Regions from separate parts of the Homo sapiens genome. Here regions 1 and 2 are each linked to region 3. Evidence: fine-mapped expression QTL. A gene starts in region 3. Each other region holds a variant in brackets. All regions are shown on one strand. Distances are between the middles of the regions. Region 1 overlaps KAZN (kazrin, periplakin interacting protein). Region 2 overlaps KAZN (kazrin, periplakin interacting protein). Region 3 holds the start of KAZN (kazrin, periplakin interacting protein).

The links. PIP is the estimated chance that this variant, and not a neighbour inherited with it, causes the effect. A credible set is the group of variants that fine-mapping cannot tell apart.
Region 1: its variant is fine-mapped to the expression of KAZN in whole blood (INTERVAL, PIP 0.90).
Region 2: its variant is the best candidate, but not a certain one, in a credible set for the expression of KAZN in whole blood (INTERVAL, PIP 0.56).

The regions. Positions count from the first base shown.
Region 1 is chr1:14,868,535-14,871,292 of GRCh38, reverse strand. All of the region lies in intron 1 of KAZN (kazrin, periplakin interacting protein), which reads right to left. Among named protein-coding and RNA genes, the nearest start is that of KAZN, 270 kb to the right of the region's middle. RefSeq lists an enhancer at 2,688-2,758. The variant A/G (reference allele first, on the strand shown) is at 1,654.
Region 2 is chr1:14,809,511-14,812,268 of GRCh38, reverse strand. The region is part of intron 1 of KAZN (kazrin, periplakin interacting protein); the gene reads right to left. Among named protein-coding and RNA genes, the nearest start is that of KAZN, 210 kb to the right of the region's middle. The variant AC/C (reference allele first, on the strand shown) is at 1,016.
Region 3 is chr1:14,597,468-14,600,225 of GRCh38, reverse strand. KAZN (kazrin, periplakin interacting protein) reads right to left here and starts at 1,541. Exons shown (of 15, transcript NM_201628.3): 1 at 1,003-1,541. The coding sequence starts at 1,228. RefSeq lists a silencer at 715-874.

The DNA of each region.
Region 1 (2,758 bases), 270 kb before region 3:
GAAGAGGCTGTGGAACATTCTAGAAGAGAGCTGATTGGGCAATTCCCCAAACCTAGGAAGGAGAGGTCTGCAGGACAACTGTGCCTGGACTGTTCCAGCATCGTGAGGAGGTGCAGGACTAAAGAGGGCACATAGGTGCCGTGTGGTGGTGGAGGGTCTGGACCTTGAACACTGGAGCTTCTGACTTCACTGAAGACACACCTGGGCTCAGGCAACAGCACTGTCCACCTCTTGGAGATCAGGTGGGCCTGGACAAAGAACAGGTGAGCTGAGACCATGGAGGATGGAAGCCTCCAGGCCCCTTCCTCATTCTCCAGATATCAGACAAGCCTTCTGGGTTATTGTGTGACCCCAGGCAGGTGTGGAGGCGGCCATTCATATGATGAGTCTTAATTTCTTATCATTCTGGTAGGGTTGGGCCTGGTGAGATTTCTTGCACACTTGGTTGTGGAGTAAGATTCATATATGTAATAATGAGAACAGTGTGGCCACAGTGACACATAGTGCCACACAACCTTCACAACAAATGCCCCCGATTGAGAGCTGACCATGGGCCATTAATTGTGCCAGATGTGAAGCTCCTCATCTCATGAAGCATCACAGCAGCTCATGAGGGAGTCACGGTCGTGAACCCCATTTAACAGATGAGGAAAACCGGGCCTGGGGGCTCACACCTGTAATCCCAGCACTTTGGGAAGCCAAGGTGGGCAGATCACTTGAGGTCAGGAGTTTGAGAGTAGCCTGGCCAACATGGAGAAACCGCGTCTCTACTAAAAATACAAAAATTAGCCAGTGTGGTAGTGCATGCCTGTAATCCCAGCTACTTGGAGGCTGAGGTGGGAGAATCACTCGTACCCAGGAGGTGGAGGTTGCAATGAGCCAAGATTGTGCCATTGCACTCCAGCCTGGGCGACAGAGCAAAACTCTGTCTCAATACAAACACACAAAAAACAAAAAACAGTTGAGGAAACAGGGCCAGAGAAGTTAAGCCATTTGTTCAAAGTCACACAGCAAGTGAGGAGCAGAGCTGGGACTCACCCTTCACCCTGTCTTAACTCCAAAGCCTGTGGTCTTTTGGTTTTGAGTAGAAGGGTCTGATTTTTCCCAGTATCCAGGCCCTAGACTCCATGTTCAAGGAATCTCCCCAGCAGTCGTCTGAAGGTCAAAGCCAAGGTCAAGGCCAGGCCCAGTGCTCCTGGACAGATACTGGGATTTTCCACAGAGATGAGACCCTGAGTTTTTCATCTCATTGGGGAAAAATCTGGACATTCTACCTTCCATGTGATTTTTCTTACCTCTCTGTCATTTTTCCCCGGATACCTTGGGATTAATGGCAAAGTAATGCCGGGGTGGGTGTTGGGTGGCTTCAGGAAGGAAGGGGCTGAGGGCAGGAGACCGGTACAACCCAGCAGCCACCACATGGAACAAGGCTTTTAATAACACTGGATTTTTCCAGCAGGTCTGTGCGCTAATTAAACCTGCTCCTCGCAGCCACTGCAAAATGAAGGGAGTCTCACCTGAAAGCTTGTAATTTGCCAACACGAAGGAGAACAGAAGCAAGTACTCAAACATTACCCACAACCACTGCTTTGGAATATTGATTAGCAAGAGACGAGGCACATGCCAGCTTTCAACCCCTCGAACCCAATCAGA[A/G]TCAATATTTCTCTCCTCAGAGTGCAGAGGAGAAGACCCTTTCAATTCCGATCCAGAAAGAGCCCAGGGGCTGTGACATCTGCCAGCCCTACTGTCCTGTTCTGCTTCACTGAAAATGCTAGCATAGGTGAAGATATAAAAATTACAGAACTCATCAAAAGATATTATAAAGCCCCAGCCACACATCCTAATGACTCACAAAATGACTAGTCTCCAGCATGCAGCCTGTAATTAGAGCCTCGCTGTGCAGAATATACAGTCACAGCCCCTGCGTTGAGGCTCCATAAAGAGTCCAGAGTCTGACCCCTGAATTGTGCTCACACAGGGAAGGCAATGAAAGGTCGCGAGCTCACCCTGAGAAGTGAGAAAAAATCCTCAGAACCTGGAAGAGCTTGAGACTGTGCAAAAGGGAAGTGGAGATTTAAAGGAGCAAACTGGAAGGGTCAAGACAGGCAGGAAGGGGATGGTGGAAGCTGGAATACTAAACTTCGATCCCAACCTGCGGCTAGAATAGGATCCAGCTGTCATGGCTTTGGCAAGTCTGCGGTTCTCACTAGGACACATCCCAAGGTGCTAGCAGGAACTAGAGAAGGGGAATCTGGCATCCTGACTAGCATTTTGTGGGTACCCACAATACCACCGGGGCCCCCAAGCTGGAGTGGGGGACACAGATCAACAAGGGAAAAATCACCGAGTAGAACAGATGCACCCCCCCGCCAACCCCGATTCAGTTCTCTTATCTTGGCCCCATTTCGGATTATTTATTATTATTTTTACTTAGCTATTAAGTTTTTTAGAGTTGGGGTCTCATTCTGTTGTGCAGGCTGGAGTGCAGTGGCATGATCATAGCTCACTGCAGCCTTGAGTTCCTGGGCTCAAGAGATCCCCCCACCCCAGCCTCCCTAGTAGCTGGGACTACAGGCACACGCCACCATGCCTGGCTCCTCTTGGCCCCATTTCTGGAAGGACATGCAGAGATGAAGACAGCTGCAGAGGAGCCTACTAGATTCCCCTCCCCAAACTCAAAGTCTGCCCAGATGTTCTGGGTCTACAAGACTCCAGTTCACCCAGTGGAAAAGTGGTAATGGTTAGACATTCACTTCAA
Region 2 (2,758 bases), 210 kb before region 3:
CGTGTCATGGTGTGGGACTGAGTCCACCTGGAGGCAGGGTGTCATCAAATTTGCTCAAGGTAGTCACAGAGGGCTGGCCTGCCAGAAGAGACTAATCCTGGGACACCCTTCAAAGCAATGCTACCTCAATATTCTGAGGAGGTGCTGAACATTTCAAGGGAAAGGTGGGGAAAGATGTGACAGCTCTCGGTGTCCCTTCTAACATCTTAAGCAGTTCTGCTCTGGCTCCAAACTTACATCCTCTTTCCAGAAAAACAAAAGTTCTTCAGTTATCGGGATCACCATCTGCAGAGGGCAGTTCAGGACCATCCTTGGGGTACTTAGATGGATTTTGAAGACCTTGCCCTTCTCAGGTTCAAGTTTTCATTCTTCCATTTACTCACTGCGTGACCTTGGGCCAAGTCTGTAACATCTCAGGGTTTGTCATTTCCCCCGTGCAACAGGGATCATCATAATATGCATTTCATTAAATCTAGGACACCATCATTTATAACATGCACTATCATTTGATGTATCACTAAGAAAACAAAGCTGCCAATTCAACTACCATGCCTTTAATATGAAGATGCATTCTTGTTTCAGAGACAAAAAATGAGAACAACGTGTGCTTTAGAATTGATAGAATTTAGTAAAATAGCTTGCTTCCCTACATTAAAAGAAGGTTGTAAGAGAGTAAATGAAACAATGTGCAAAAAAATCTTTGCGAACTGTAAAGCACTGAAAATATTAATGATTCTTAGCCAAAGAAACTTTCAAATGGCTTCATTTAAAATACTGATCTACTATTCGATGTTGCACAAGGCATTTAATTGTTTTAACGTATTCACTAAGTAGTTCCAAGAGCTGTATTTACAGCGTTTGTCTGAATTGTTTTCTACTTTTATAACATTCCCACCCTCTTATGATTTATTCGTGTAGCATCAACTTGTGAGTTTGAATGAGATTCAAGATTTGGGGCTTGATTTATAGTTGGAGTTGACTAACATTTGGGAACAATGAACTGTGTTATATAAAC[AC/C]ATAAATACCACAAGAGAAAGCTGACGTGCTAATTACTGTGAGGGGACAGGGTGGGGAAGAAAAAGCACCACAAAAATCCTGTTTCATCTCAGAGTTTTCTGACAATTGTGCTGTCGGTTGGGGGAGGGCGAGGAATTCCTCTGGACCACATTTCTCATGTTGCTTTGAGGGGGGAAATGGTTGAAAGATTTGGATTGTGGTTTCCCTTTGCAAAGAAAAAGAAACATTTTGGAGGCCACCAAAGAGCAGTTGGTCCATAAATCTCCAAATCTGAAAAGACGGAAGTTGTCTAGGGCCTTGGATGTCCTATGCCCTCAGAAGGACAAGCTGGCCATGGTGCTCCAGGCAGTGCCAAGGCCCCAGCACTGACTTCCTGGCCCATTTGGGCTGGCAGGCTACGGCTGGACCTGGCCTGTCCCCACCCTGGGAGGCTGGTTTTCTCATGACTCGGCTTTCTTGCAGGATGCCCCCAGTCAGAGGTCTGGAGGCCGCTCCTCTAGGCCACCCTCATGTCCTTGGGAAAGCAGCCTGGTGTCCCCAACAAGCCACACCCTGGAATCCGGCAGGCCTGAGTTCACATCCTGCCTCTATCATTTGCTAGCAGTTTGGTACTAGACTTTTCTGTGCCTTAGCTTCCTTATTTTCAAGACTGAATGAGCTAATGTGGGGTGGGAGGGGGTCATGTCCATCAGAGTGTCTAGAGCGGAGTGGACACTCATTAAAGTATTCCTTTTGGGAATCTCTGGTGGAACTTTGAGATTCATTCATTCTGCTGACATTTGCTAAACCTCACACTGTGCCAAACAATGGCTGGGGGCTGAGGATGCCACAACGAGGAAGGCAGATCTGGTCCAGGCCCCTGAGCAGAAAATCAGCCAACAGACAATCAAATAAACAAAATAAGAGAAATCCAGTGGATGATAAGAGTTCTGAAGAAAAGCAAGCAAGGTACGGGGTTGGAGAGAGATGAGGTGATGGGGGTGCGGTGCTCCCTTAGGAAAGGTGTTCAGGGAAGGTCCTGCCCTCTAAGGTACCTCGGCCTCCCAGTCCATGATTCTTGAACCCAAAAGTTCTCAACTGGGGCTGATTAATAATCATGAATATTGATCAATAATGATTAGTGATTATCATTGATAATTAATGTCTAGGGACATTATTATTACTGGGTAAGGAAGTGGTGGCTAGTGGGGTCTAGTAGGGTACAGGCCAGGAATCCTGCTAAACATCTATAATGCACCTGCAATGCACAAGACAGCCTCCGAAAACAAAGAGTATCCAGCCCCAAATGTCAACAGTTCTGAGGCTGAGAAATCCTGATCTAGCCCGTTACCTTGTATTATGTTTTTCATGATCCTTGGCAGAGTTGATGGTGGTGGAAATGCCCCTGGTGGAAGGGACCTGGCTTATAGACCCACCAGCACTGTGGCCTGTGATGGGGTGACATCAGACTGCAAGCCTCCCAGCCACTGCCATCTCCCGGGTCTACAGGCATGCAGCAATGCCTACCACCCACACGGCGAGCACTGTACATGCTGGCTTCATACCCTAGCCCTCCAAGGCTGGGGTTACTCCAGTAAAGCTTATTCTGCCTACCAGAAATTTTTAAAAAATCAAACCAAATAGGATTCTGGCTCTAGCCAGCTCTGGAGACAATTGTATTCGGAAATACTTTCAGAATAGGGCACTTGGAATTCAATAACACACTGTCAGAGTCCAATCAGTGCACTCCCCTGCACCCTTG
Region 3 (2,758 bases):
TCATGGACTGGAGATTTGTTTCTGTCCTGTTCTGGATTTCAGCAGTTTAATTTGCAATTCAAATGATATTAATAACCAGTGATACTGTTTCTTAAAGGGCAATTAGGCAAAAAGAAAAAAAAAATCCCCCAAAGCCTGCTTACCCTTTTACTTTCTAAGTCACAGAAACCAAACAGTACATTTTAGGGAATGCCCCATCCGCCTTTATGTCTTGCAGGGGGTTTCAGAGCTTAATCTCTGTCAATGTGAACACAAACCAACTGTCTTTTTCTTCCTCTTCTCTAAACCGCAGAGTCCCTTCAAACGGGCTCCCTGCAGCCCACCACCCTAAGCCTTCATTTCTCTACCGCTCAACCTTTGAGGTCTACAGTATCCCCCTGGAAAGTGCTCTCGGTGTTTATATTTGCGGAAATTTAAACTCCCTGCTGAGCTGAGCATCTACTGTTGCATCTATAGATTCCAATGCCTGAGAGACCTCAAATGAGAAGAAAATAAAGTCCAGATGCAACTGAGCCAAGGGATTTGGCATCCGCGGAGAAAAGTGCACAGCAGTGCAATCCTCTATCCCAACCACGGCGGCAGAGCCCGGAGCTCTCTCTGGGAAGGAGCCTAAGGAAGTGGGGGGAACTGTGCCATTCACCCCTGCGGGGGGTGGGGAAAAGGCCCCGGCATGAAAAGTTTGCACGGAGCTAGGGGGCTGGTGCCACGGAAAGGGCACTTTCTGATGCCGGAAGGGACCCGCCGGCTGCGCCTCGCTCAGGCTGGCCGGGGCCGGTGTGACCGTGTGACCCCGTGCACACTGCGCTCGGGTTTTCGTGAATGACAGCAGCCTGCAACTCCCAGCCGGAGAGCAGCGGTGGCCACCGCCGGGCGGAAAGGGTTACAAGCCAGAATGCAAAGCGATTTCGCCCCGGGTGTGGGGGACCCCGGGTCCCCGGCCACCTCCGAGGCCGGGCGTGCTCTGCTCGCCTTCCTCCGCCCTGGGCGCCGGGGCGATCCTACCTTGCGCTCCAAGCTGGGGGTTCTCCATGTTCGTCGCCGCCGAGTCCCCCGCCGCCGAGGCGCTGGCCGCGGCTCCCGGGCCCGGGCCGGGGCCGCCGCCGCCGCTCAGTTCCGCCAGTCTCCGGTTGGTGGCCGTGAGTTCGGCTCGCAGGTTGGTCACCTCCTGGCTGGCCGACTGGACCGCCCCATCGATGCGGAGCGCGAGCTGCTTATTGTCTTCCATCATGCTCAGGATTTTGGCCTGGGGGCGAGAGAGGTGACAAAGAGCTGCATGATGCGCGGGGGGCGCGCGGCCGGGCACCCCCGGCTCTACCTGTTGTGTCCTCCGCGGCCCGGCTTCGCCCGCGCCCCGACCCCCAGGCACCGGCAGCGCCGGTTCCTCCGGCACAGGAATGACAGCGGCGCCTCCAGCCCTAGCCGCGGCGGTGGCGAGGCGGCGGGGGGAGGAGGCGGAGGAGAAAAAAGAGGAGGAGAAGGAGGAGGAGGAGCAGCGATCGCCGAGACCCCGGCGGGCGGGCGCCGAGAGCTGCTCCAAGAAGGACACCGCGCGCCACCAGGCACTCTTTAAATGGAGCCTACCATTCGCCGCCGGCTCGGGAGGGGGTCTCGGTCGGAGGCTGGGGGCACCCTTGGCCTCCCGCGCCCCCGTACTTCGGAGACACACCCCCCGGGGGGGCGGAGGCGGCGGACGGCAGTCGGGAGGGGGCCAAGGTGGCGCCCCTGGCGAGGGGCAGGGGTCGCCTGGACCGAGGCCGGCCCTCTGTCCCCTCCCTTGAGCGGTGGGGCAGCCCCCGCCCTGGAGAACTGGTGCCCCGAGCCGTGCTAAGGTTGGGGAGGTGCTGGGTGCTCGGAAGAGAGGGTGCTTGGAAAGGGGGCCTCAGAGGGGAGCCGGGGTGGATCTCCATGGAAGGGAGACGCTTGCGCCAGCTCAGGAGTGGAGTTCGTGCTCCACCGGTTCCTTAAACTGCGAGTACGAAATCCCCAGAGGGGAGCTGAGCTGGTGCCCCGCGTGCCTCTCACTCTCCACCCCCCACCCGCAGGCCAGACCTGCGCTGCCCACCCCAGGAGGGAGCGCCTATCTTCCTCGGCGTGGGCCGCTGGTGCTCCCGCCTCTCCACAGCCCTAGCCCTGTGTGTGCATCCAGGTGGAGGAGCAGCCTTAGCCAGCTCCTAAGCTTCTTAGCCGGGCTGAATATTGGCGGGGACAGAGATGAGGTTGAGAGATAAGAAGGAAGGCGTCGATGGGGCTTCTTCCCTTTCTTCTACTGGGAGCAGAAGAGTTGAGCCCTGCTGCCTCAGTTTACCCATCCCCTCTTCACAGAAGAACTGAGGTAACCTGACGTTGATATGCCCTCTCCAGCTCCTCTTTCTCTCCCAGACCACAGGCTTTGCATTTTTCACTGGGGCCCTGGATTCCAGCCACCAGACCTTGTTACCATAGCAAACTTCATTCCATGCAAATAGGACAATTTAAAACAGCCAGCAACCCTCTGGTCAACAGGGCGCCATCATTCCAGCTCAGTCAACCTCCGGAGAGCAGCAAAGAGCAGATTGCAGAAGCCAGTGGGGTGCTGCGAGGAAAAATGAGGCTGCCCACCCTTCAGGTTCTTACAGGAAGCCCATAAGAACCAAGCAAAAACTGCGTGTAGAGTGCTTTTATATGCATTCTTATCTCTTGTGAGTGAGGATTATTATTCCCATTTTAGGGATAAGGAAACTGAGGCTCTGCATAGGGTTAAGCAATTTACTTAAGGGGC